Linked DNA regions of Homo sapiens. The protein of the gene in region 1 interacts with the protein of each later gene in a pairwise test. Each region holds a gene or a part of one and is shown in the gene's direction. Other genes may lie near its edges. The genes, in order: HEXB, NXF2, ASB3 and GPR75-ASB3.

Region 1 (7,027 bases):
TTTTTTGTATTTAATATTAATATTAATATTTAATGCCTTTACAATATTTAATGCCTTTACAGAATTTTTATTTAATATTCTCTGATTTTTGGATACCAACAAAAGGTACTTTTTTTTTTTTTGAGATGGAGTCTCGTTCTGTCACCCAGGCTGGAGTGCAGTGGTGCGATCTTGGCTCACTGCTGCAACCTCCACCTCCCGGGTCCAAGCAGTTCTCCTGCCTCAGCCTCCTGAGTAGCTGGGATTACAGGCGCCTGCCACCATACCCAGCTGATTGTTTGTATTTTTAGTAGAGACTGTGTATTTTTAGTTTCACTATGTGGGCCGGGCTGGTCTTGAACTCCTGACCTCGTGATCCTCCCGCCTTGGCCTCCCAAAGTGCTGGGATTACAGGCATGAGCCACTGCAGCTGGCCAACAAAAAGTAAATTTTAAAGGCTCTGGTGAGAATTCTGGACCTTCTTTTGGGGCTTTATATGTAAGCTAGGATACTTTTGCAGGAAGGTAACAGGAACTCTGACTCAATCTGGCTCAAACAATAGGAAAACTTATTTCACACATTAGGATGTCCAAAAGTAGGGATGAATTTAGGGCAAGTTGACCAAGTGGCTCAACAGTGTTACCAGGGATCCATATTCTTTCCATCTCTGCTCTGTCCACTTTAGTGTAGTGGCAACTAGTCCAGCTCTCACATACAGAGAAACGAAGTTTTCTTGTGATTTGCTCAGAACTCCCCCTAACCCCCACATCCTATCACTGGTCAGAATTGGTTTTTCATTCCCAAGAGTGATGGATTACCATGATGGTTTCATTATTGGTTCTTAACGGGGCTTCATATGTCACTTCAGAGTGTGGGGAAGCATTTAAAATTCCCATGCCTGAATCCCATTCTAATAGATTCTGATTCTGAAGGCATGGACGTTGGGATTTTCAAAAAACTTCCCAAGTGATTCTAATGTACAGCTTGGGGTGAGAATCTCTAGTTGGACTTACAATGGGCAGCATGGATTTGAGGAGTTAACTACAATGTTACTAGCACATCTGTTTTAAAAATTTGGCTAAAATCCTTCTAAAATGTGTTTACATTTATTTCTCAAACAGATATCATGGCTATATTTTTGGTTTCTACAAGTGGCATCATGAACCTGCTGAATTCCAGGCTAAAACCCAGGTTCAGCAACTTCTTGTCTCAATCACCCTTCAGTCAGAGTGTGATGCTTTCCCCAACATATCTTCAGATGAGTCTTGTAAGTACCTATGCAATGTGAGTGTATTATATCCCAGGTGCTCGCTGACGGACTTAAGTGCCAAAAACTGACTCCATGCTAGGAACCACTGAGTTCTCAACCAGTGAGTTTATGATTCCTATTTTAAAAATAACCTTTAAAGTCTGATTATAAAAGTAGTACATAGTCTTTGTGGAAAATTTATTAAGTACAGTAAGTGCAGAAGAAGAAATAAATCACTCATAATCCCAGCAGATAGAATTAATCACTGTCATTTTAGGTGTATTTTTTTGCAGAGTAAAACATGTAAACATTTTACATAGACATAAATACAAACATGATAAGCATTGACATGAAAATGGCAGTAATTCTGTACATGTGCTTCTTGTATTTTTGTTGTATTTTTATATCATGCTTTTTTGCAAAATACATTATAAATTAAACATGAATTTCACTAGTTTTCTGTGATATCATTTTCAATGGCTGAATAATGTTCTGTCACTATATGGATGAGCTGACTTGGGTAATCTCTTTTGGACATCTAGGTAATTTCTTAACTTTTTGTCTTTGAAAACATCTGTATCCATGATCTCTATTTATAATCTAATTTTACAGAAAGATAATGCAGAGCTAGGGGAGAGGGTGGGTACAGCAGTTTCATTTGTAATCTGCTGTACAATATAATCAACATTTAGCTGTATGATTTTGTCCTCGTTGTTGCCTAAAACGTTATTCTCTAGGGCTTTTCCCAAATTGTTTTAGAACAAATAAGTGGGCGTGCCATTTCTATAGGGTATACTGCCTGAGAATAATGTGGAATTGCACCAAGGAATCAAAGAAGGGCAGTATAAGGACATGTGTAATATAAGATTCGTGCAAGAAAGAGCAGACAGGGGAACTAAGTGTAAAGATAGAGGCTGGACGCTGTGGCTCATACCTGTAATCCCAGCACTTTGGGAGGCTGAGGTGGGTGGATCACTTAAGGCCAGGAGTTCAAGACCAGCCTGGCCAATATGCTGAAACTGCATCCCTACTAAAAAATACAAAAAGTTAGCCAAGCGTGTTGGTGCGTACCTGTAATCCCAGCTACTCGGGAGGCTGAGGCAGGAGAATCACTTGAACCCAGGAGGCAGAGGTTGCAGTGAGCTGCAATCATGCCGCTGCACTCCAGCCTGGGGGACAGAGTGAGACAGTCTCAAAAAAAAAAAAAAAAAAAAAAAAAAAAAAAAAAAAAAAAAAAAAAAAAAGATAGGATGCCACAAATTTAGAGAAAAGAGCAACTCCATTACCCCCAGACTGCCTCACAGTTAAGTACATGTCTTCATCCTGCTGGTTTAGATGAGATTTCTCAATAATACATCTCTTTGAAAAAAAGCTTTCTTTCTCTTCAATTCCATAGCTGTTCTTAGAAGAGAAATAGGAAAATTCACCAACATCAGGTATCATTTCAATTGATACTCAGCACTCAGACACCATGTGAAGTAGGTTTTGCAACCTGAATTGAGATGGAAATGGTCATTACGTTGCCAAGGAATCTTTGCTGTCCATTGGCAATACAGATAACAGATTGTAAATTCCACAAAATGAAATGTATCGAGACTAGAGAGTCATAGCTTATCTTTCAGTCAGTTCTACAAACCCTCTTTATTCTGAAAGGGAAGTTTCTTGAGACAAGGTTATTGTGAAATTTTCAGCTGAAGAATAAACTAGTTTTTAGTCTTTAAACTAGTTGATGATGATGATAAAAGTAACACATATGAATGGAAATAACAAGATATCAAATGTCCAGAGTGGGAGGACATGTTGGAGGAGGTGACACATGTTAAAGCACCACTATTTATTAAAAATAAAAATATGCATGCCCTGAGAAGTGGACTAGTTTTTACTGCAGATAAATGGACACATAAATCAAGGATGTTTGATGCAGTTTGCCTGTAATGTGAAGAACTGTCAATAAAACTCAATGTCCATCAATAGAGGAATGGCTAAATACATCTTGTCAATCTATACTAAACAGTATAATCACAACAGTTAAGAATAAAGAAGCAGTATTACTGAGAACACACATGGAGAACTGACAAGATAAACTGCTGAGTTGAACAAAGGAAGCTGTATAATTATGTGTAGAGGTGGACCCTGTTTATATATCAACACACGTGCAGGAACACACGCATAAAGCAATACTATATTTTCTCCTTCCGTGTACATCTATGTCAAGCCTAAGAAAATGCCCGATAAGTATTTCCTCTGAGGAAGGTAGAGGGAGTTAGGTGAGTATCTCAAAGGAGATTTTAGCCTTATCTATATTATATTGCTTTTAAACAGAATATATAGATATGTCATTTGTATATTCACCCTCCAAAACAAATGTATTTATGGTGCAAAAAGATACAGAATGGGCTAACTGAAAAGTCAATGATATAATTCCTTTCACACTTCAGGGAAGTGATCATTGTTAACACTAATAACTTGGTTGTGAAGTAAAAATGGAAATTCTATAGCTATGTGTCCATATATTTAGAAAACCAAATTTCTAATTGTTATATGTATTTTCCACTGAGTTGAATTACAGTCCTGTTTAATATCAGCCAGTTGTCAACTATTAGAAAATAATTGGTATCAAATATATGCAATATATTAATGTTTTTTAGGTGACTGTGCTATTTCTGGAAGATCTCAAAACTAGAATGTGGCAAAAAAATGTTTTTAAACAGTGACCAATGGAGCAGTGAGCTCTAGGTAGCTGATTAAGAATTTGATACAGGCTGGGTACAGTAGCTGACACCTGTAATCCCAACACTTTGGGAGGCTGAGGCCGGTAGATGGCTTGAGCCCAGGAGTTCAAGACCAGCCTGGGCAACATGGCAAAACCCTGTCTCTACAAAAAAAAAAAAAAAAAAGAAAGAGAAAAATTAGCCAGGCGTGGTGGCACATGCCTACAGTCCCAGCTACTTGGGAGGTCGAGGCTGCAATGAACCGTGATTGTGCCACTCCACTCCAGCCTGGGCAGCACAGTGAGACTCTGTCTCAACAACAACACAAGAATTTGCTATAGATGTAGAGGAAACATAATTAGACTATGCTCATAAATAGCAATATAGTTCTTAGCCTGGCATTGGCTAACTCATCTAATGGAGTGTGGTTATCTAATGGAAAAGGCTATCTTGTCAGAAGACTATCACCTGAGATGCTCACACTACTGATAGAGCACTTTTGCCTACCTGCAGCTAACTATTCTGTGAGCATCTGAATGGTGGTGGTGGTAGAAGGTGATAAACCACCCCAGAGGACACAGTATTAAATCATTAATCTCCAGCCCATCAGTGTCTTTGCCGTGGCAAAGTCCAAAGCTGTTACACCCTTTAGCTTTCAATCTCTTTACCATCTGTGGGTTTACTATGTGGTTGATTCCACTCCAGACCTCTCTAAAAGACTAAATGACTATTGGGCCAACCTTAGAGTGTGCTTCAAAGATTGAAAGATTAGCCTCTCACCAGAAGCAGCTAACTGGAGTCCCATTCTGGATGATGTGAACTTTTAATTGAGTGGGACAAAGCTGAATTATTTTTATTGAGTGAGACAAAGCTGAACTAAGCTAAAGGGATTTGGAGAGTAAGTCTTAAGGCAGATTTGGATGATACTGAGGGAAGGTGGGTACAGGGCAAGTAGAAAATTCTGAATGCAAAAGAGTGGAGATACTCTCTGGCCTTAAAGGGAGTAGATTTGAGCGACACCTAGGGCGTTACCAAGGATTAGTAGGAACTGAGGAATGTTTGCACTTTCAACTAAACTCTTAGCTTAACTAGGACCCTACTCTGTTGAGGAGAAGTTGGAGAGACTAACTCTTTTAGGAAAATGAGGAAACATGGAGTTGACACCCAAATTCCCGTTCTGAGTGACTCAAGTGACTGGATGGTGGTGCTGTGACTCACTGAAATGAGGAACACAGAAGACCAGCAGGTTGAAGTGTGCGGAGGAGGGAGGGAAGAGTTCTGTTGGGGCATGTGGAGTCGAAGGAACCTGCAGGACATCCAAATGGAGATGTACAGGAGGCAGTTAGAGAAATAGGTCATGTGCTTGGGAGAAAATAATAGTCCAGAAATATCAATGACATGTTTAGGAAACTTATTGTGTGTCATTGAGGGATTAACAAAAGTGTGTGTGTGATTTTAAATCCTCAATACAGATACTTTACTTGTGAAAGAACCAGTGGCTGTCCTTAAGGCCAACAGAGTTTGGGGAGCATTACGAGGTAAGTTCCATGCAGTTTCATTGTTACTTTCCAGTAAAGGAAAATTTTCAGTTGGTGCTTTGTGAAATTAAGCACAGCAAAACTTTGCCGCCTTAGATCCTTTACAGAATGCTTTGTTATGTAGTTCCAAAATGATTTCCATTGAACATGTACTACATAAAGCATGGGAGAGGTCAGCACAGTGGCTCACGCCTGTAATCCCAGCACTTCGAGAGGCTGAGGTAGGTGATGATTGCCTGAGCTCAGAAGTCTGAGACCAGCCTGGGCAACATGGTGCAACTCCATCTCTACAAAAAGTACACAAATTAGCCAGGCATAGTGGTGTGGACCTATAGTCCCAGCTACTCTGGAGGCTGAGGTGGGAGGATTGCTTGAGTCCAGGACGTTGAGGCTGCAGCGAGCCTAGATCACACCACTGCATTCCAGGCTGGGCAACAGAGCAAGACCCCTGTCTCAAAAAAATACAAATAAATAAATACAGCATGGGAGAAAACTCATTTGACCTCTCAAAAAATGTTTGAAGGTTATTACATTCCTGCAGTGCTGTAATTCATTGATGCTCTTGGGACTGTAATGTTTATAGCACTACACATGGCCCCAACCTGTCCTGATTAGGGAATTTTGTTTCAGCTATCACTTCTGTTGACTTCAGAAGCAAGCATCTCTCTTCCCTAATTTTAAATTCCTGTAGATTTAGAAACATAACTAAGTTTGTATAAGGAACAGTGTCAAAAGGCAAATATGCTATAGAGTTGGTTAGAGGCAGTGGGCAGGGAGTAACTTGAAAAGCTTCTCATGAGAATTTCAGAGTCTGAACTTCAAAGTTTGACCTCAGGACATTTGCTGTTCAAAAGTTTCTTTTACCTTTCTTTCTAGGCAGATAAGATACTGTACTGACTTCCGAATAGCAGAGTTTTTAGAAAGGGAATTTAAAAAAACATGAACTAACCAAACTTAGTCATTAAAATAAAGGCTTGGGATTGATCATAGTCACTCACACCTGTAATCCCACCACTTTGGGAGGTTGAGGCAGGCAGATCACTTGAGGTCAGGAGTTCGAGACCAGACTGGCCAACATGGTGAAATCCCATCTCTACTAAAAATACAAAAAAAAAATGAGCCAGGCATGGTGGCGCATGCCTGTAATCCCAACTACTTGGGAGGGTGAGGCAGGAGAATTGCTTGAACCTGGGAGAGGGAGGTTGCAGTGAGCTGAGCTGGCACCACTGCATTCCAGCCTTGGTGACAGAGCAAAACTCCATCTCAAAAAACAAAATAAATAAAGATTTGGAATCTGACTCAGAGTGTTACCTAAAATAATCATTGTTATGCTATATATTTTATACCATAAGATTATAATTTTATTCAAAATAGAATATGAAAATATCTAGATATTTACTACAAATGTAATTTTATTTATGTATAATATTAGTGATTTTAAGCTTTTATTAGTCCAATCTGCCTGTCTCATCTGCGTCTGCTAAGGAGAAGAGACGCTTTTTTTTTTTTTTTTTTTTGAGACAGAATCTTGCTCTGTTGCCCAGGCTGGA
Region 2 (7,027 bases), on another chromosome or scaffold:
GGGCGGCAGGGATTCATGAACTCGTAAGTCGTTTCTCAGGGGCAGGGCTGTGGAAGCCTGATGGGATTCCCCCCCCTTCCCGCCCCCACACTAAAAGCCCTACCCTTGCCTGTCACTCTGCCCGATTCACCGTCTGTGCCAGGTGATTCTGTCCTCTGCCCCTCCTCAGACCATGTTGTTATTAAGGACACTCGAGACTGCCTAGATCCCAGTTTGTATAGACGATTCCAGACCCAATCTTAATTTCTGTCTCTTATTTGATTATGTAAAGATTCTCTTTGTTTCCATGATTTATTTTTCTACTAAACCTTCTAAACATGGGCTCAGGGGGGTGGGCGAAAGGGAGAGAGGGGAATCGGGAATTTTTTTAAAAAGAGAATTTGATATTTCAATAAAAGTGTCCAAGTCGTCATGATGTGAAGATTCAGAATTTACTTGTTATACTTTATTTGAACTCCATTGGCTTTAAAAAGTACATTTGGGAGTGGGTGACATTTTTTTTGTGTGTGTGTGCGCTTAGGATCTCTCAGTAGCTTATAGTAGTATAGCTTCACACTCTTTTGTTTCTGATTCTCCCCCCATCAACCCCTGATTTTCTAATGATTGCTTCTTAGATTCCTTTCTGAAAACTCTCTCCTTTTCTTCCTGTGGAAAAAAGTATAGTGAATGGATTTAAGGTACAATCATGGGTGATAACATTTGGTACATCATGAAAGCGGTATTGGGTGAATGAAGTTGAGCAAATAGCAAGATTGTGCTTAAACTTACGGGGTTTCAAATATTGCTTGTCAGATGGTTAGAGAATATTGTCACTTGTGATATTTGATATTACATGTAGGTTGAATAATCTATTTTTCTCTCATTTCAGCATTTCCAAGTTCGTTCTGTGAGACTGTAGTGTCAGGACAAAGCAACAACAAAATGTGCTCTACTCTAAAGAAGTGTGGGACATACAGAACTGAAGGTAAACGAATACTGTAGGATTTTTTTAGATGATATGCTAATAAACAACACGAGTCTCAAAGGGGGGGCTACTTTCCCCAACTTGTATGGGAATGGAACATTTTTTTCCACAGAGCATTTGAGGTACCAGTGTTCTTCAGAAAATATTTGGGGAAACCCTGTTCAGACTACATCTTCTAACACTTTAAAACCTTGTGCCTTTGTTTACTCAGAACAATGGAATGTGGGTTTATAATAGTTGTAATCTAGTCTGCTCATTAAGACATTGATTGTTGCTCTTTAATTCATTTTATCTCATGTCATCAGTCAGTCTCTCCTGCTTGAATCTTTGTACTTTTTTACTCTTCAGAGATACCGCCAAGCATGCATCTGATACCATGGTGGTGGCAGACAATATGTGCATAAATGCAAGTCATTAGGAAGCCTTACCTGTGGCAGCAAATAAAGTGCCCCCACTCTTGAAAACAAGATACAACTTACCTGTCAGGACAAGCAGATGCAGTACCGCTCATTTTACACAATAAAAAACCACACTTCTTCAGAACCATTTTATTATTACTTAATAATTACAGCTGCCATAGTTTGAGCCCCTGTCATATGTCAAGCACTGTGATAACCTCGGCTGTCATGCAAGTTACTGCATTTAACCCTCAGGAAAGTCCTGAGAGGGTGTTATCTTAATTGACAGATGAGATATATGAGTCAGGAGAGGCTGAGTGTAACGCTGTGCTTATAGGCAACCCCCAAACCTCAGTGACTTATTTCTCACTCCTGCTGCATGTTTATGCCAGGTGCATATCCTTCACGGGATGGTGGATGTTGGGTTCTGAGCCATTCTTATTGGAATGACTCAGAGACCCAAACTAATGGAGCAGCCACCATCTAGAAAGGGGTTACTCACTGCGTCAGAGTGGGAGAGAGCCGTAGAGGGTCTCAAACCAACAACCAAAGGTTCTGACCCAGAAATAACCCGTGTCACTCGTCACTCACAACCCATTGGCCAGAGCTAGTCACATGCACGGCCCTGCCCCAAGGAAGGCAGTCGGGTCGGGCAGTCCTACCAGGTGCCTGGTACAGGGGAGAATGTAAACACTTGGTAAATGGCAGCACTGACTACTGCATGAAGGAATCAAAGCTGGGAGGGATTAAGTACTTGCCTAACATCACATCGGCCGTAAGTGACAGAATCAGGATTTGAATCCACCCAGGCGTGATTTCAAAGTCGATGTCCTTTCTGCTTCTTTCTACGCTGCCTGCTCTTCTCTTAAAGGAAGCTTATAGTAAAAATTCTTTTACATCAATGATGCAATGCCCTCTTCCTTAATCATCTGATAGTTTAATTGAATAGACACGATGGCACTGGTTAAAAAGACCAGCACTGATAAGCCAGAGGTCTTTTCCAAATGAGGGAATGTATTGGATATTTGAATATCCATTGTATTCAATTATAAAAATAAAACCAGGTGGTAGATGAAAGGACTTTTCATTGATCATTTACTTAATGTGGAATAATCCCCATGTCTTACCGCTATGTTGAGGAAAAATGATAAAAAAATAGAGCCTACCTTGATGAAAGTGAAAACACCATGTGAGAGAGTTGAACAAAATTGCTAGATGTCAGTGTTTCAGAAGCGCAGGATAATGATAAAATCTCTGGCCACACGGGCAGAGAAAATTAGCGAGGTGGTGCGGGTCAGCCACTTTTGGAATGAAGATAGTGTCACACTTACAGTGACAGAAAAGATTGAAAAAGATCACATTATGAAAAGGATGTGAAAATTTGAAAATTTAGATTAAATAGATGAATTCCAGGGGAAAAATATATATAACTTTCCAAACTGAAGGAATAGAAAACCTTGGTTTATTCAATGTATTCTTGACAAGGAATACATGCAAAGGCAAAATTACTAGCCAACCCGAATTAGTTACATAAACGCAAATAATATAAATCAATTAATAGCAAACTAAACCCAACAATGGGTAAAGCAGATAATACAGCATGACGAGGTTGTGTTTAATCCCAAGCATGCAAGCTGAGTTTAACATTTTAAGAGATCCATAATGTAATCTAACACATTAGCTGAATAAAGGGAGGAGGACAGGACAAATACCACAAAAGATCCAGTTAAAAAAAAAAGTATGCAATAAATTAACCAACCGGGATTGAACAACAACAATACCAATAATTCTCAGCAGATCGGTAATATAGAAAGCTATCTCTTTAAACTGACAATGGGTATCAAAACAATAGACCCCATCAGACACCACCCTTAATAGTAAAACATTAGAAGTATTCTCCTTACAATCAGAAAAGGGATAAAGATGACTGGTATGACGAATTCTGTTCAATGTCGTACTGAGTCTAGTGCAGTAAGCCATATGTCATACTAGGCAGTGCGGTAAGCTGTGATACATGCATGCCTACATACATAAATTAATACGTGTATAAAAGTGAAAAAGCTGTCAACGTGACTATCTTCATATGAAACTCAAGAGAAGCTACAGAAAATTAAAAATAATAATGGAGATTAACAAGTTTGTTGGCTATAAGACGAACATACACAAACCATTGTAACAAAGAAAATACCATCATTATTGTAAATATACCATTTACAACAGAAAACATGTCTTGTGAAATATACGATGAATCTGCTTACTTGGCAACTATTCCAGCACTCTTAAACATTCTTATATGCTTTCCTGTACTGTAGAGACTAGAAAGTTGGAACATGAAAGGAAACACACATGCACATGACCCCACGCATGTGCGCACACACTCTCTTTCTCTCTCTCTCTCGCTCTCTCTCTCTCACACACACACACACACACACACACACACACACACAAATACACTCTCACACACATACAATTTACCAGAGTCCCTTGCAGTTAGGGTCTCAAATGGGATATTTATCGCATCAAGCGTATGTGCCAACATGAGACTCAGAAGTGGAACTGAATAACATGGGAGCCATATGTGGGGTGGACTACCTGTGATGAGGGAGGTCTCCAGTTTTCATGCGGCAGCCATTGCAGAGTTTCTAGAATTCAGTCTCTGTCATGCATGTCAATTAACGGGCAGGCAGCAGTGGTATTTCAGCTGTAGCAGTTCCATCACGTGGGTGGACTTCTCCTGGCTGTGCAGCATCCAGGCCTGCTTTTCTGGCCCTCACAGAGTTTTTGTAAGCTATGTAATATATTTTATTAGAGATATCTTGTTTGTATAAAAGAGCTAGAGTGAATTCTGGCATAGGCAAGTTGGGACCTTGATTAACAGAGTACTTGGCAGCAAAATTGGTTGCAAGCAAAAGACCTTGAAGGAAATGGGGATCTGGGGTAGATTTGGCCCACAGGGCATAGTTGCTGACCTCTAAGCTAATAAGTTGCTGACCTCTAAGCTAATAGACTCACTGGGTCCCCAAAACAGTGCTGAGTGGGAAGTCAGCAAAATGAGGAGGCAGCTATTGCTAGGATCCTCTGGCAAGCATAAGCCAAAAACTGAGGCTTTAACACGGTTGTTTTCAACCTTGGTTGCACACTGCAATTCACATGGAGAGTTAAAAAATGTGGTTGCCTGGATCTAACCACGGTTCTGCTTTGATTGTTTTGGGTGTGTCCTGGTGCTAGTGAATTGTTTCAGTGTCCCCAAGTGGCTCTAATGTGTAATCATGGTTGAGAACTGCTTGAACAATTTAAATCATAAGAATGCAAGCCTTTCACAATATTTAATTTTAAAATTTTATAATTGTGGTTTCAGAATGATAATATTACAGTAATAATAAATACATAGTTACGCTGGAAAATATGAAATAAAGATTCCCATGTAAGACATCGAGAAGATTGTCTTTTTCAAAGAGAAAGGAAATGGGAAAACACAGTGGTAAAGCCGGGGCCACCACAGGTTGTGTCCGGCTTGAAGCTAAACTGCCGGCAAGGCCAGAGCAAGGTATGGATTAAAGCTAAGTGTCTGTGAGCCCAGGGCTGATTCAGCAGTGGAGCTTCCTCTGCAGAAGACATCCACAACCCAGGATCAGCAAGGAAGGGATGGCACAAACTCAACAAATCCAATAATTGGCACTGAGGGAACAGAAAGAATGGAAGAGGCTGAAACAGACATTAAGATAATATTTCCCCAGAGAGACAAAGGAGTGATAAAGGATGAAATTGTGTCTATTACGAAAGAATAGAAGACTGCCCAAGAAAGATGGCTTTTTGAAGGCAAGGATCTCCTTTCACTTCCTCCTGAAACTTCATTAAAACAACATCAAAGGTGAACAAATTATGGTATATCCATCAAGGGGCTTTTACTCAGCAAGGAAAAGTCAAGAACATGGATGGGTCTCAGAAACATTATGCCGAGTTAAAGAAGCCAGACCCAAAGGGGTGCAGCATGCACAAGTCCATTTGTGTGAAATCCTAGAACAGGAAGATGAATATATAGTAACGGAAAGTATATCAATGTTTGCACGGAGCCAAGGGATGAAGAGGAGATCGACTGGAAACCTTTTGGGTTGTGTTATATGTTCTATATCTTGATTGAGGTGGTAGCTAGCCCTAATCTCTGATTTTTACATGTAAGGAACCTGGGATCAGGAGAAGTTGAATGAGTCGTCAAAAGTGAGGTTAGCTTATTAATCAGAGAGAAGATATTCACACTTGATTGTCAGTAATAAACGGTTTCCATTATGCTGTATATGGGTCGATAGGAAAAGTGCTTCTCCCCAAGCACTTGACAAAACCCTGACCCGGCCATAAACATCCTCTTATACAAGTATGAAGCGTAGGTGTGAAAGTATAACCATTCTGCATTCCAGCCACCTACTTCTACACATGGTTGACATTCTCACGTGTCCCTTTACCCTGACTTGTTTGTGTTTATATTTACAAATGAAAACATAACTTCTCATTAATATTTTCTTCTGAGGAATCATACTGTAATATACAGTTTTATAACCTGACTTTGTTTTTCTTTCCCTTTGTATCACGTGGCGTGACGAGTATTCTACCTTGTTGCTTATAGTCTGCCACTTAAACCTGAAACATTTCTTGCATAATAATACATTTTTTTTTTTCCTGAAAGATCGGAAACGGGAACTTAAGCTCCCTACTGAATCCTTCCGCATAACCTGTTTCATGCTCTGAGCTTTCTGTTTTGGTTCCCTGAACCCATATGTCAGATGATTCCCCACTGGAGCCGGGGCTGCCCTGTTTTACTACTGCCGCTTTGTAAGATACATTAATAGCTGACATGGCAACCAGATGCCACTCACTCATCTCTTTTCCTTGTCATTTCCAGGAGGACTAATAACAACGAATGCAACTAACACGTATTTCTCCCTCAATAAACGCCAGATGTTGTACTACGTTCTCGACATAGTAATAGACAACTTATTTATAGTGCTTGTTAGGTCACGGGCATTTCTCCAGGTGCTTTTCACGTGTTTCCATGTGTTAACTCACTTAATTTTTACAGTAGCCCATGAGGTAGAAACTGTTACTATCTTTGAGTTAGGGGGAAAACAAGCAAAAAGAACTTGAGTCACAGCGAGGTCACTTAGTTGCCTTGGATCATAGAATTTAGCACCAGGATTGAAATCCTGATGGATCTGACCACAAATCCTAGGCCCATAACCAATAATGTGCGACTCTGTGTCAAGGCTGAAATGAGCAGTACGACAGGGCCCACTCAAAGTCTGCTGGGCAATGATGGGTGTGGTTTCTGGAACCAATGTCCCGACTCCAGCCTTCTGTCCAAGAGACTCATCATTGCACAGTGTTGCCCTATACCATCTCTCCTTTTTTCGGACTGTGTGGGAACTGTTTCTCTGGTGTTCAACTTGAAGTGAAGTAACAGGGACAGACAAGATGTACATGGACAGGAAGGAAGGAGGGTTTTCAGAGGGGAGCATATCGCCAGGATGAATTCAGTTCCCTGGAGGCGTTTTCAATGTGTGTTTCTTTGTCTTCTCTGTACTCACCCTCTTCTTTCTGACCCACACATCCATCCCTTGGCCTTTTCACCCTGTATGTCAGGTACTCATGCCCCTTCCTTGCCATGTCTACT
Region 3 (7,149 bases), on another chromosome or scaffold:
CAATGTATATGACATGCTATAAACCATGGAGTTGGTCAAATAGTAGTGCTTGGGAAAATCTGAGTAAAATATATTCTACATCAACAACAGAAGTAGACAGAAAATTAGACTGATTTGTGGTTTAATTTGGTGAAATCTCTGAACTCTATAAAGTAATGAATAATTAAACATAACGACAGAGGTGATACTTCAGAAGGAAAATATTAACACAAAAACAAAACTGAGTGCTAAACATCAATAAGCAAAGAATATCATAATTATTAACTCTAGTTAATGTACACATCAAAAATACACAAATTTTTTGGCCAGGTGAGGTGGCTCATGCCTATAATCCCAGCGCTTTAAGAGGCTGAGACCAGAGGATAGTTTTGACCAGGAGTTTGAAACCAGCATGAGCAACATAGGGAAACTATCTCTACCAAAACACACAAACAACCCCCATTTTACAGTTTTGGTGCTTAATACTTTTTCTAAGCAAATCTGAAAGCAAGATTGTAAATAATTATATATTGTTTTGATATATCTGAATGGGAAGACAATTTAAAGCAGACAATTTTAAAGCTTAAAAAATTCAGATCTTCTAATCCAGTCTCTTCCAATTTCAGTTAGTAAACAGACAAAGGACCTTATCCTATTTCATACAGCTGCATATTAGTTAGATACAAATGTCCAACCCGCGGCCAGGCACGGTGGCTCATGCCTGTAATCCCAGCACTTTGGGAGGCCGAGGTGGGCGGATCACTTGAGTTCAGGAGTTTGAGACCAGCCTGGCCAAAATGGTGAAACCTCATCTCTACTAAAAATACAAAAAAAAATTAGCCAGGTGTGGTAGCGCACGCTTACAATCCCAGCTACTGGGGAGGCTGGGCAACAAGAATCGCTTGAACCCGGGAGGCAGAAGTTGCAGTAAGCTGAGATGGCGCCATTGTACTCTAGCCTGGGTGACAGAGCGAGACTCTGTCACAAACACAAATGTCCAACCAACTGGCCCATTAAAAAAAATGGCAGCGCCAGGTGAGGAGAGTAGTGGTTTCTTTTCTTTTCTTTTTTTTTTTTTTTTGAGACAGACTCCTCTGTCGCCCAGGATGGAGTGCAGTGGCATGATCTCGGATCACTGCAACTTCTGCCTCCAAGGTTCAAGCGATTCTCCTGCCTCAGCCTCCCAAGTAGCTGGAACTACAGACATGTGCCACCATGCCCGGCTAATTTTTTTATTTTTAGTAGAGACAAGGTTTCGCCATGTTGCCTAGGCTAGTCTCAAACTCCTGGGCTCAAGTAATCCACCCAGCTCGGCCTCCCAAAATGTTGGGATTATAGGCGTCAGCCACTGTGCCCAGCCAGTAATTTCAGTTAAATGCAAAGGGAAGCCTTAAGGTTATAGAAGTATTAAAAAAAATCAAAAGACCAATGATAATGACTATTGTGGCTTATTTTTACATAAAGGACATAGGCCTTGTGACAATTCACAGAACACTCTAGATTTTTCTCAAAGTAGCACAGACTTAAAGAAAAAAAAGCCAGATGCAATGGTGACCACCTGTAGTCCTCGCTGTTCAGGAGGCTGAGGCAGAAGGATGGCTTGAGCCCAGGAGTTTGAGGCTGTAGTGAGCATAATCATGCCTATAAATACCTACTGCACTCCAGCTTCTAAAAAAAGAATTTTTTTTTTTTTTTTTTTTTTTGAGACAGAGTCTCACTCTGTCACCCAGGCTGGAGTGCAGTGGTGCAATCTTGGCTCAGTGCAACCTCCACCTCCCGGGTTTAAGCGATTCTCCTGCCTCGGCCTCCCAAGTAGCTGGGAGCACTGGTGTGCACCACCACGCCCAGCTAATTTTTGTGTTTTTAGTAGAGATGGGGTTTCACCACGTTGGTCAGGCTTGTCTTGAATTCCTGACCTCATAATCCGCCTGCCTCTGCCTCCCAAAGTGCTGGGATTACAGATGTGAGCCGCCGCACATGGCCAAAGCATTTTTTTTTTGAAATAAAATTGTTAGATACGTGAAAAGTTGGTGTAGCAAATGCTAAGACTGAAAGAAAATGGAATGACAATTTGGTAGTGACCTCTAAAAATGCTAGTTTTAGTCGCTCGCTTATAGTAAGTTTTCAGGGCTGCATATCAGCAAGTTTTTTTAAATTAAAAAAAACACAGGTGCCAAGAGTAAAAAATTTTAATGACATAATTCTTCAAACATCTGCCATATTCACTCCAAGTGTGCTCTTTGGATACAACAACAGGTATTAAAGTATTCTCTTCCAAGCCTGCTAAAGTTATATCTGATTCATAACAAAATTTTACATAGGTATTTCAATGTATCAATATTTTGTGGCATTAATACAAAGAGAAATTTGACGTCCCAGAAAAATATTTACCTAGATAAATTCAGAACATTTGGTTCACACATGTAATCCCAGTATTCTGGGAGGCTCAGGCACGAGGATTGCTTGAGCCCAGGAGTTCGAGACCAGCCTAGGCAACATAGTGAGACCCTGCCTCTAGAAAAAAAAAAAAAAATTAGCCAGGAGTGGTGGGATTTCCCTATAGTCCCAGCTACTGGGAAGCTGAGGAGATCTCTTGAGCCCAGGAGGTCGAGGCTGCAGCCAGTGGTGACCGTACCACTGCACTTCAGAATGGGCAACAGACTGAGACCCTGTCTCAAAAAACAAACAAAAACAGAAAAACCCAAACCAAACCAAACCAAACCAAAAAACCCCTAACACTTGCAAATAGAAAGCTATGTGGTAATAACATCCATTAACTTGACACATCTTGTTTTGACATCATAGTGTCACTTACTGTTTCAATGAAATGGTAATGAAAGAATATAATAAAGTATTGCAAGTTGAATGCTTGAAGGTAATTGGAATAAAAAGTTTAAAAAAATTTTGCTTTTTCCGGGACTTCAATTTGAAGTAAATGAGTTAATTACTACATGGTAAGTGTCATAAGAGTACAATATTTATTAGCCTGCAGTAGGTACACGTGGACAGGAAGACTTTTCAGCGGTCCACTCCCCCAAGAGGGAATTTTCATTTCCGCGAGGTTACAAATGTTCTTCACTACAGGAAAACTCAACATAGAAGCTCATGTTCTGGGGACTCAAATAACAGTCGTAATACATGAAAACTGTAAAGGATATTCTGCATAAAGGGTCGTTAACATCTCACAGGCCAAATAGCCCTCTCAGAAACAACTAGGAAAGGAAAAAGTTCCCTTGGAGCTGTGCGTTTGCGTATGTCCGTGTGTGTATACAACTGAGGGAGAACGAATACGAGAGAGGGAACTCGAGTCTGAAGTACTGTGGTGTGGGCAGGGTGACATGTAATACTGAAGGAAAGAAGTCTGCTGGTGAAGTAAGAGCCACAGTTAATTTTCCGAAAGGAAGATGAGTAAGTGCACCTGACGTTATTCTACGAAAGCTGCTTCTGCAGGGTGGGAATGTTGGGAAGCAAGGTCTAGTGCGACAGAATTGAAAAGGTGGAGAGCAGGTGATTGCTGGATCCCTAATGCTCAGCAAGGGGGACGCATCCACATAACGTGAGAACGAACGAATGAATGAACGCTGCATAAAAGCAGCTTTGGCTTGGGGAAGGTAAGAGTCTGCAGAGAAGGTCTTGGGGAGAAAAAGCAAAGAAAACCGAGGGAAGAGGCCGAACCCTTAGTGTCAGGAGGAGGGGTGGCTGCGGGGTTAGTGAGGGCACTGACCAGAGAGAACTCGGTGCCGGGCCAGTTGACTCGGAAAGGGATGTCATCGCTGAGTTGAGGAAGGGCTCGGCCGCCGCCGGACGCCTCCAGGAGGCCGCAGAGGACCAGTAACACCGGCCCGCCCGGGACCAGACTCCGTACGCCGCCGCCTCCTTCCTCCATCCTCCGCCGCCGCTTTCTCCAGCCACCGCCACAACCTCCTCTGCTCCAGGAGGAGAGGAGGAGGAGGAGGAGGTGGAGGAGGAGGCGGCGGGACTATAAAGCGCCCGGGTATCACCGGCCCAACCGCCGCCACGTCTCCTTCCGGAGAGCCCGGCAACGCCGCCTCCGCCCCCTTGAGCCTCCTGTCACCGTTTCCGGGGCAGACGACATATCAACATCCGGGGGTCGCGGAGCCGTCCGCCTACGGGGGCCGGGACGTCGCCTGCGCGTCTCTCGTTTTCGGACGGCTGCAGCATCGCGGTGGGGATCGAAAGCGGGGGCTTCTGGGACGCAGCTCTGGAGACGCGGCCTCGGACCAGCCATTTCGGTGTAGAAGTGGCAGCACGGCAGGTCGGTGAGTCTCGGAGGCGGCAGCCGCTTCCTGAAGCCATTCCCGCTGCTCTCCAGTGGGCAGGCAGAGGTTTGACCCACACGGAGTGATAGCGGGAAGAAGACAGTGTGAACCGTGCGGGTGCGGGTCCTTAGATGAGAAAATTCGAAGTAGCGATGAGATGTGAGAAATGGCGGTGTTCCTGACTGACCTGCCTTCTTGCAGCTTTTCTTCTTTTTCTCCGCATTTGGCATTTGTACACTTCATTTTTCCCGCTTGAGGCTTATCTCCATCTCTTCTGCTGTGGACCGTGGCCATCTCGTTACTTAACAGCTTCTGACTAACGCAGGGCAGTTTGTTCAGCGACTGCAACTCTGTGTTAGGGGAAACCTGGGGTGAGGTAGCCCGCCATCTCCCCGTAGGTGAATACCGCAAGCCTCCGAATTTGGCGTGGTGGGCGACTCTCGTGGAATGGGCAGCTAGACATCACAACCCTACATTTTTACCCTCCATCTCTAGATTGAAGTGTTGGGGTGTTGTTTTATCAAGGAAGCTGGTAAGGTTCCTTATGTGAGGTTTAGCGCCAGATGAATGTGTGTGTTTATGAACTAAGTCACGTCTGACTGCATCCCCAAATTAGACAAAAAGTTTTGTTTTTCCCTCCCCCTCTTTAGAAAAAATGCCATTGTCTGTTTTGATCTCCAATATAATGGACATAGAGTGTTGGCTTTAGAGAAATTACCATTCCCTAAAGCTCGACAGTCTTGCTAGATCTGTTAAAGACTGGTCGCCCCCACTTCCTCAGATTTGAACCAAATCAAAAAGCAGGAAGGACAGTCCCATATTCTATCTTAAAAATTTTTTTTTAACATCAGGAATCCATAGTATCAAAGAAGATAACTTTCTTCAGAATTGTTATTCGCTAATTATATTCAGCACTTCTTATTAATGCTTAATGTGATCCAGACTCCTGGGATTTTTGTTGTTGTTGTTTGTTTTGAGACAAAGTCTCGCTCTGTCACCCAGGCTGGAGTGCAGAGGCATAATCTTGGCTCACTGCAACCTCCGCCTCTGGAGTTCAAGGGATTCTCCTTTTTCTCAGCCTTCCGAGTAGTTGGGATTACAGGCGCGCGCCGCTACACCCTAATTTTTGTATTTTTAGTAGAGGCAGGGTTTCACCACGTTGGCCAGGCTGGTCTCGAACTCCTGACCTCGGGTGATCCGCCCTCCTCGGCCTTCCAAAGTGCTGGGATTACAGGCCTGAGCCACTGTGCCTGGCCCCCCTGGGCTTGGTAAAATGCCAAATAAATGGGTTTCTGTCTTTGGTCACACAGTCTAGGCAGGGAGATTGTACAAACAAATAATTGCAAACTATTATAGTAGTAATAGTCAATTTTTTTTTTTTTTAGCATTTATTCTGTGCTAAGCACTAGTCTTAAGTCATGAAGGAAAAGAGATGTATTTGACGGAATAAAAATGAAAACTGTCTGTGAGGTCCTGTTTTAGCATTTAGGGCTATAGTGATTGAATCTGTGTTCAATAGAGCTGATGTTCAAGTAAGAGGGGAACTTAAATAAGTAAAATAATTTCTAGTATTGGTAAGTGCTGCAAAGAAACTAAGGTTATGTGAAAGACAATACCTGTAGGATGTGTTGCTTTTAGTACGTAAGTCAGAGGAGACTTCTGTGAGGAAGTGACATTTGAATTGTGACTTGAATGATGAAAAGAAGGGAGCCAGACAAATTTCTAGGCAGAGGCCCTGAGGCAGGAATGAGCTTGATGTGTTGGAGTGATAGAAAGAAGGCCAGTGTGGCTGGAGTGTAAGAGGAAAGTGGTAGAAGAAGTTTGAGAAGCAGAAAGAGGCCAGGGAGACAGCTCTGTAGGCAGGAGAGTGGACAGGACCCGATGTACATTTGTGAAGATCATTGTGGCTGCTGTGTGGAAAATTGATTGTAGGGGGTGTTGTGGGTTGAATTGTGTTCCCCAAAAAGACATGTTTAAGTCCTATCCCCTAGAACCTGTGAGTGTGAACTACTTGGGATAGGGTCTTTGCAAATATAATTCAAGTAAGGATGAGGTCATACTGAATCAAAGGGGGCCCTAATCTGGTGACTGGTATCTTTATAAGAAGAGGGAAATTTGGATACACATGGACACACAGGGAGAATGCCATGCCAGGAAGGAGGAGGCAGCAAGATTGCAGTATGTGTCTATAAGACAAGGAATGCTAAAGATTGCCAGTAATCACCACAAGCTAGGAAGAGGCAAGGAAGAATCCTTCTTTAGAGCTTTCAGAGAGAGAGAATAGCCCTGCTGACATCTTGATTTCTGACCTCTAGTTTCTAGAATTGTGAGACAATCAATTTATGCTGTCTAAGCTGCTCAGTTTGTGGTCATTTGTTACAGCAGCCTCAGGAAGGTAATAGAGGATGAAAACCAAAAAGTAGTTGAGACAAGTCTCAACCAGTTTAGAAGTTTATTTTGCCAAGGTTAAGGACGTGTCACAGACAGCCTCAGGAGGTCCTGACAGCATGTGCCCAAAGTGGTCGGGCTACACTTGGGTTTTACACATTTTAAGGAGCCACAGGACATCAATCAGTACAAGTCTTTTATGCTTTATTTATAGGTTGATTCTTAAACATTGAAAACTTATCAACTATTTACCATATTGTAATTATACAATCATCATTCGCTATAAAACTATTAAGTATGATTGCATCTGCAGAGAAAAAATGTAATTCTACCTCTGCCAATTAAGGTATCCTATTAGCTTCCTAATAATGGCACCATGTTTGCTAAAATAAACTCATTTTGCTCCTGAAGCTGTATTTCCAGCTCTCACACATGTAATTTAGACTAGTTGCTTTACAAGTCAGTTGCATACCTGTTTACTGAGATTTTTTTGTATCATGCC
Region 4 (7,027 bases), on another chromosome or scaffold:
CCTCTGGCCACAGCTTCCTAAATTGCTGGGATTCCAGGCATGAGCTACCCTGTCAGTTTAGCGAAGACAATTTAAATGATTACCAAGAAGTTAGCAAAGTAAATATGTTTATATAACAACATCCAACATTCAGTGAAGAGGGAAAAGCTTACCGTGCTACGAAACCCTTTTATGGTAGTTCCTTTGAAATTTGTGTTGATTTTTTTAAGTATTAGGGTTATCTGTTAAATGTTTTATTTTGTACCCTTAGGTGCAAATGTCAATTGTCAAGCCTTGGACAAAGCTACACCCTTGTTCATTGCTGCTCAAGAGGGACACACAAAATGTGTGGAGCTTTTGCTCTCCAGTGGGGCAGATCCTGATCTTTACTGTAATGAGGACAGTTGGCAGTTACCTATTCATGCAGCTGCACAAATGGGCCATACAAAGTAAGTGTTAAAAACAGAAAATAAACATGGTCTCTTAATCAAAAGCTAATAAAGAATAAATCTGGGCTAGACCCTTCACCTCTAGGCAAAGTCTTTGATATTCTCTTCCCTACCAATCTGCTGGGTGAACAGATCTACCCCTAATCTGTCCTTCATGCTGTCTTTTGCTCCTACTATTCCTGCACTTTCATATTGTGAGGCAGAATTGCTACAGACTGGGTAGGCTCAGGGACTTTCTCGGGGTGTTGACTCTTCCCATTGATTTCTCTAGTTATGGCTGTATCCGCCGCCTCCTCCTCCCTAGTTTTATCCCAGGCATCTTTAAGCATCAATCTGATGAGGCCATCCATGTTACCTCTCTGACCCCAGAAAGCTTTTGAGTTTGTGATGCCTGTTGGAGTGTGTGCTAAGTAGTCCTCCCTGTCTTAAACCCTTTGACTGAACTTTTCTTGATCTAACCTCAAATTGGAGAGAGAGTAAATGGGGGTTCCAGGAATCTTAGAAGCTAGTAACTTGGTTATACCTGTGAGAATATGGCTACCTATCATAAATTGGCAGTCAATGATTTTTAGAAATATATGTGAGAATATGGCTACCTATCATAAATTGGCAGTCAATAATTTTTAGAAATACATGTTTAGAATCTTTAGAGCCATAATTCTATAATAGCACTTTTTATAGCTGCTATTAGTATTATTTAATTTAAAAAGTAATAGTAAAATATTCATTACTTAATTTAGTTTGTTTACATAGTAGGAAAACAGATTCTGCAATTTGGTCATTATGCCACTAGGTGACACAGTACTTTACTATTTCATTAATGATATTTGTAAGCATGTTTATGTCTTGTGGGAGAGTATAATTTTTCCCACCTACTTAAAAAAATTAAACACATTTATTAAAGTTAAGAGACATTAGACTATTTTAACAAAATACTTAGATTTAAAAATTTGATATTTTCCCCAATTCTTGATCATTTATTTAAACATAAGTGTTAGATATTGTACTCTGAACTTTAAATGGTACCAAAACTCTCCTGGGCATTTGTTCTCAATTTTGAGAATTCTCATTGTCACTGATGATTTTCTTTATAGCCTACTTCAAAGGTAACCCCTTTTGTGAGTGTAAGTTCTACTTAAATGTTATCTTAGACATACATTACATGAGGAAAAGTCACAAAGAGAAATGTAATACTATGAAAATACTTCAGAGTAGCCCTGTCTGTCTTTTCCCAGAAAGAAGGAATTTCCTGGCTTTAACTATACAGTTTTATTTTTAATTTTAGAAGGGTAGAATAGTCCTTTTTTCTTTCCAGTTGACTGCTAGAGGTAAGTTTACAAATAACCTAAGAACTTTTGTTTTAATTATTTTCTTAGAACTTTCTCTACCTAGGAGCCAGCTTCTTTATAAATCTGCCTCCATATTTAATGAGCTCACTTTTTTTTCAGATAATAGAATATTTTAGCACAAATTATAATTTCTTCCTGATGAAAACATTAGTCTTAATTTCATGCCAGTTATCATCTTTAAAAATTTTTACTAATTGGAAAAGAAAAACTAGTTGGTACTTTAAGAAGGAAAATAGTGCATTTTCTTGATGCCAGTTTATACTTAGTAGAATGATGTTTTAAATAATTTATTAAACCCTAAAATATCTAACATAAAATTTGAATTTTGGGGGTTAAGGTGGTGCTAGTAAGGTAATAAAATTAAAAGAGCACCTTTTCTGTTTACATATAGGAACATTAATTTTGTTTCAAATGTATTTAAAGACCTTTTTATTAAGCAATAATAAGTGTAACATTCTGGAGTAAATATATAGCATGTAATAGTTTAATGTTGTTGGTAGAAGGTACACCCTAGACAGAAATATTTCTTTAAATGAATCAGTTGGTAATTCTGAAAAAAATTGTGCTATAGAAATGTTGCCTACATTTATGCACATATACAAACACTAAATTCTCCTGAATTTGTGTATTTATAGAATCTTGGACTTGTTAATACCACTTACTAACCGGGCCTGTGACACTGGGCTAAACAAAGTAAGCCCTGTTTACTCAGCAGTGTTTGGGGGACATGAAGATTGCCTAGAAATATTACTCCGGAATGGCTACAGCCCAGACGCCCAGGCGTGCCTTGTTTTTGGATTCAGTTCTCCTGTGTGCATGGCTTTCCAAAAGGAGTATGTATATTTGCTATGTTTTTATTTTTTATTCTTTTTTGCTGTATGGAGATGTGTTTTGAAGTGACTTTCTTTCACGATGAAACTTAGTATCTCTGTTAGTGCTAAATTGCTATCTTGGAACACAAATAGGAAAAAAACTATGATGTTTCAGTCAAGCTGAAGCAGAAATGAGGTGATAATATCACATTGTTTTCCTTCCTTCTTTGGATCTGGATTATATTTTTAGTGTAGCAATCTTAGGGAATACGTACAATTTAAGTAGACGCAGAAATTTGCTGATATTTTTGGTCTTCAAAACAATTCAAGAATTAAAAATGGGGCTTTATCAAGTAAGGCAGTGACTGCTTCAGGTCATTTACCGTTTCAAATTTATAAGATATAAGCCTAAAAATTAAACTTTAGTTTTATAGATATTATTGTGTTTTTAATGTATTTGGTGGATAGCATTAAAAAAAATTTTTTTTTTTTGAGACAGGGTCTCACTCTGTGGCCCGGGCTGGAGTGCAGTGGCACCATCTTGACTCATTGCAACTTCTGCATCCCAGGCTCAGGTGATCCTCCCACCTCAGCCTCCAGAGTAGCTGGGTCTACAGGTGTACACCACCACTCCCAGCTAATGTTTTTATTTTTAGTAGAGATGGGGTTTCTCCATGTTGCCCAGGCTGGTCTTGAACTCCTGGGCTCAAGCAGTTCCCTTGCCTCGGCCTCCCAAAATGCTGGGATGTCAGGCATGAGCCACGATGCCTGGCTTTATATTATTTTTGGATGTGAGTCTAAATAATTAAGTTTTTAAACGCCCCCAAATTAATTATTTTTCTAATCTGTCATAATTCTGTGAAATAGACTAAGTGAAGAATTACTGCTGCCTTGTTAGTGTCTGGCCAGTAACTTTGTCTATAACACTCTTACAGTTTTAAAACACTAAGAATAAAGCTGTGTGTAAGAACAGCCATATTGAGTAATATCTGGTCATCCAATAATGGAATAAGTTATGAAGATAGATGCTATTGTGTTTAATGACACAGAAGAGGTTGCAGGCATACCTCAAATTGTATTGGCCTTCTTGAATTCACTATTATGAATCTCTATTTAATTTGAGTAGTTATCAAGAAATTATTTACTAAGCTTTTCAGCCTTTACTATCTCTTAACATTTGCCATGTAAAATTAGTAGTTCACTATAATTTGTTTCAAGTTTAAGCTTACACGTTTTAGTAGAGATAGGGTTTCACCAGCCTGGTCTCGAACTCCTGGCCTCAAGTGATCTGTCTGCCTCCAGCCTCCAAAAGTGATGGGATTATAGGTGTGAGCCACCCCATCCGGCCTCTTAAACTTATACATTTTAGTTTGAATATTTGGGTTTTGGTTAATCTGAGTATCTGGGGCCCACTTTATGTATAACTTTCATGATTTCATAGGATTTTCTTGTGTACCCCGTTAAGTTTTGTCTTTTTAAACAGAAGAGCCCTAATTACTTTAGTTGACCTTCAGTGAGGTTGCACTGATAACTTTTAGTTGCCTTTCTCTATCCCAAATCTTAAGTCCGTTACAGAACTGAACATTTCTTATTAGACCAGAATATAATGATTTTGGATTGCGCGCGCGCGCGCGCCTGTGTGTGTGTGTGTGTGTGTGTTCAATATGATGATGGTCTTTTTTGGCCTTCATCTTATCTTTTGGATGAACAATGTTTTTGGTCCTTCTGGTCACAGCAGCTAAGCTCACGCCTCATCACCTTATAAGTGTAGTTTGAATTAAGCCATATAATGTAGTACCCCTGTTAACTCTGAAACACCTTAAAATTAATGATATTCCTTGGGAGCTGGGCAGTATGTTTCATGCCTTCTGTAGATTCGGATAAATGAAATTAGGTGGGAAAGATCTTAAATAGGTTTCTGGATTTTCCAAGATTAGTTGAAATTTTAGGGGGCAGACCCTTTTTTCTCCTTTGATTTCTACAAAATCAGTCAGTAACACTAATTGACCATTTTGTTATGTAGAGAGCACTAAATAGATCCTGTTAAACTTACTGAGGAAGCTGAAACATACACACGATCCTTTAGGAATTTAAAACCTAATGGGAAAAACAGTATTTAGTGGCATTTACTTCACTATCTTCTGCTGTCTTTGGCAAAGAAGCGTTTTTAATGTATTTTTTTTTTTTTGTATTTTTTTATAGAGACTCATGGAAGGGAAGGTTCCTATTTTTTTCTGCTGTGTCTGGGATAACTGCAAATAGGAGCTATTATCTCATTCTTGAATAGTGATATAAATGATTTTTTTTCTTTTCCTTTCACAAGTACTCCAAAGTTGTATTTTTAAGGAACTCCACAGTTTGGTTTGCTTTTTATGTCTCAGTTACTCTGTAGAATTTTTTTCTGTGTAAACTTCAGTGATGCTAAGAAGTTCTTAACATGCAGTGGAGTAATTCCACTACAGCCTCTCTCTTTCTCTCTAATGACTACAAAAAACTGTGGTCAAAATTCAAAAAGAAACTACCTGAGGACTCTCAAAGGAACAAAAGCAGATAGATTATGAAAGAGAGTGGTAACTTGGTGAAGTGACCCACATGAAAACGAATTTTCCCATTTCTTTTTCCTTTTTTTTTTTGAGACTGTCTCGCTGTGTTGCCCAGACTGGAGTACAGTGGCGCGATCTGGGCTTACTGCAACCTCCATCTCCCGAGTTCAAGTGATTCTCTTGTCTCAGCCACCCAAGTAGCTGGGATTGTAGGCATGTGCCACCATGCTCAGCTACTTTTTGTATTTTAAAAGAGATGGGATTTCACCATGTTGGCCAGGGTGGTCTCAAACTTCTGACCTCAAGTGATCTGCCTGCCTCGGACTCCCAAAGTGCTGGCATGAGTCACCGCGCCTGGCCTTCTTTTTCTTCTGCTGTGTTGCCCTGAGGGCCAACCCTGATCTGGAGCTGAGTAGCACCAGTGGCACCAGCAGCTAATATCAGTCAGTAACATTAATTGACCAGTTGTTTAATATAGAGAGCACTAAATAGATCCTGTTAAACTTACTGAGGAAGCTGAAACATAGACACAATAGAAAGCCTGTTTTTCTGGTCAGAGGAATCAGGTAAATGGAACCCTGTGGGCCAGAGAATGGTAGGGAATCTTGGAGAAGAGAGAGCTTGGAGAAGCGGATACCCTAATTGTGCATATGAATTTGCATATTCCTGACTTACCCCAAGCTTTAAATGCACAAGATAGACCCAAATTGTTTTTTATTTTGTTTTGTTTTTGAGACAGGATCTCATTCTGTTGCCCACACAGAGTGCAGTGATATGATCATGACTCACTGCAGCCTCGACTTCCCTGGGCTCAGGCAATTATCCTGCCTCAGCCTCTTGAGTAGCTGGGACTACGGTTGTGCGCCACCATGCCTGGAATTTTTTTTTTTTGTATTTTTTGTAGAGACAGGGTTTGCCGTGTTGCCTAGGCTGGTCTTGAACTCCGAGCTCAGGTGATCTCCCTGCCTTGGCCTCTCAAAGTGCTGGGATTACAGGCGTGAGCCACAGCACCCAGCCAACCCAAAATGTTGAAAGTAAGATTTGAACTATCATCAGAGTCTCAGGCTAGACCCTGAGTGGCACATTCATGGGTCCAAGCTTAAAGCAGGAAAGTCAAGGCTTTTGAGAACTGAGCTGACGTTGGAACCACTGTATAAGGTAAAACAGAAATTGCAGTTTGAACCTAACTAGGTTATATGCTTGCTGAAATAAACAAACCAAAAAGCTAGTGTTCTTCAAAGGATTATAACAAGACCCAGGACTCAGAATTTATACAGCATAACATTCACAATGTCCAGGAGACAACCTAAAATTATTTGACATATGAAGAACTGATAAAACATTACTAAATCTCATGGGAAAAAGCAATTAATAGATGCCAGTCCTGAGATGGTCCAGATATTAGAAATATCAGATAATTGAAAGCAGCTCTTATAATGGTGCTTCATGAGGCTAACACACTGGAAAAAATGAAAAGGTAGAAATTCTCAGCTGAGTAGTAGAAACTATAAAAAAGACGGAAAAATACAATAATCTGCAATGAAAAATTTACTACATGGACTCCATAGCCAAATGAAAGATATAGGAAAGAGTAAATTAACTTGAAAGTAAACCATTAGAAATTATTAACAAAGGGGAAGACATGCTGTCTGGCAGCTGGAGCGTGCAGACTGGCGTGGCACAGCCATGCAGCTTCTGGAGTTTCTGTTGGTTAGAGATTCAGGAGTAGCTTGGTGGGCAGTTCAGGCTTGGAGGTTTCTCTTATAGTTGCATTAAATATCAGATGAAGCTACAGTCATTAGCAAGCTTGACAGGAGCCAGGGGATCAACTTCCACAGAGGCTCACTGACATGGATCACTCATATGGCTGGGTGTTGGCAGGAAACCTCGGTTTC

Evidence for each region.
Region 2: the proteins of HEXB (region 1) and NXF2 interact in binary tests that used the Homo sapiens proteins (3 or more experiments, as listed by UniProt).
Region 3: the proteins of HEXB (region 1) and ASB3 interact in binary tests that used the Homo sapiens proteins (3 or more experiments, as listed by UniProt).
Region 4: the proteins of HEXB (region 1) and GPR75-ASB3 interact in binary tests that used the Homo sapiens proteins (3 or more experiments, as listed by UniProt).

The regions. Positions count from the first base shown.
Region 1 is NC_000005.10:74,688,228-74,695,254, forward strand, and holds part of HEXB (beta-hexosaminidase subunit beta isoform 1 preproprotein), read left to right. Parts: intron 1-1,100; coding exon 1,101-1,246; intron 1,247-5,411; coding exon 5,412-5,477; intron 5,478-7,027. UniProt on the Homo sapiens protein: Hydrolyzes the non-reducing end N-acetyl-D-hexosamine and/or sulfated N-acetyl-D-hexosamine of glycoconjugates, such as the oligosaccharide moieties from proteins and neutral glycolipids, or from certain mucopolysaccharides.
Region 2 is NC_000023.11:102,306,158-102,313,184, forward strand, and holds part of NXF2 (nuclear RNA export factor 2), read left to right. Parts: intron 1-868; 5' UTR 869-921; coding exon 922-964; intron 965-7,027. UniProt on the Homo sapiens protein: Involved in the export of mRNA from the nucleus to the cytoplasm.
Region 3 is NC_000002.12:53,783,927-53,791,075, reverse strand, and holds the start of ASB3 (ankyrin repeat and SOCS box protein 3), read left to right. Parts: upstream 1-4,122; 5' UTR 4,123-4,255; exon of another isoform or gene 4,256-4,791; intron 4,792-7,149. Other genes in the region: ERLEC1 (endoplasmic reticulum lectin 1 isoform 1 precursor), read right to left, coding at 3,704-3,865. UniProt on the Homo sapiens protein: Probable substrate-recognition component of a SCF-like ECS (Elongin-Cullin-SOCS-box protein) E3 ubiquitin-protein ligase complex which mediates the ubiquitination and subsequent proteasomal degradation of target proteins. Recognizes TNFRSF1B.
Region 4 is NC_000002.12:53,709,967-53,716,993, reverse strand, and holds part of GPR75-ASB3 (GPR75-ASB3 protein), read left to right. Parts: intron 1-250; coding exon 251-428; intron 429-2,412; coding exon 2,413-2,610; intron 2,611-7,027. Other genes in the region: ASB3 (ankyrin repeat and SOCS box protein 3), read left to right, coding at 251-428, 2,413-2,610. UniProt on the Homo sapiens protein: Probable substrate-recognition component of a SCF-like ECS (Elongin-Cullin-SOCS-box protein) E3 ubiquitin-protein ligase complex which mediates the ubiquitination and subsequent proteasomal degradation of target proteins. Recognizes TNFRSF1B.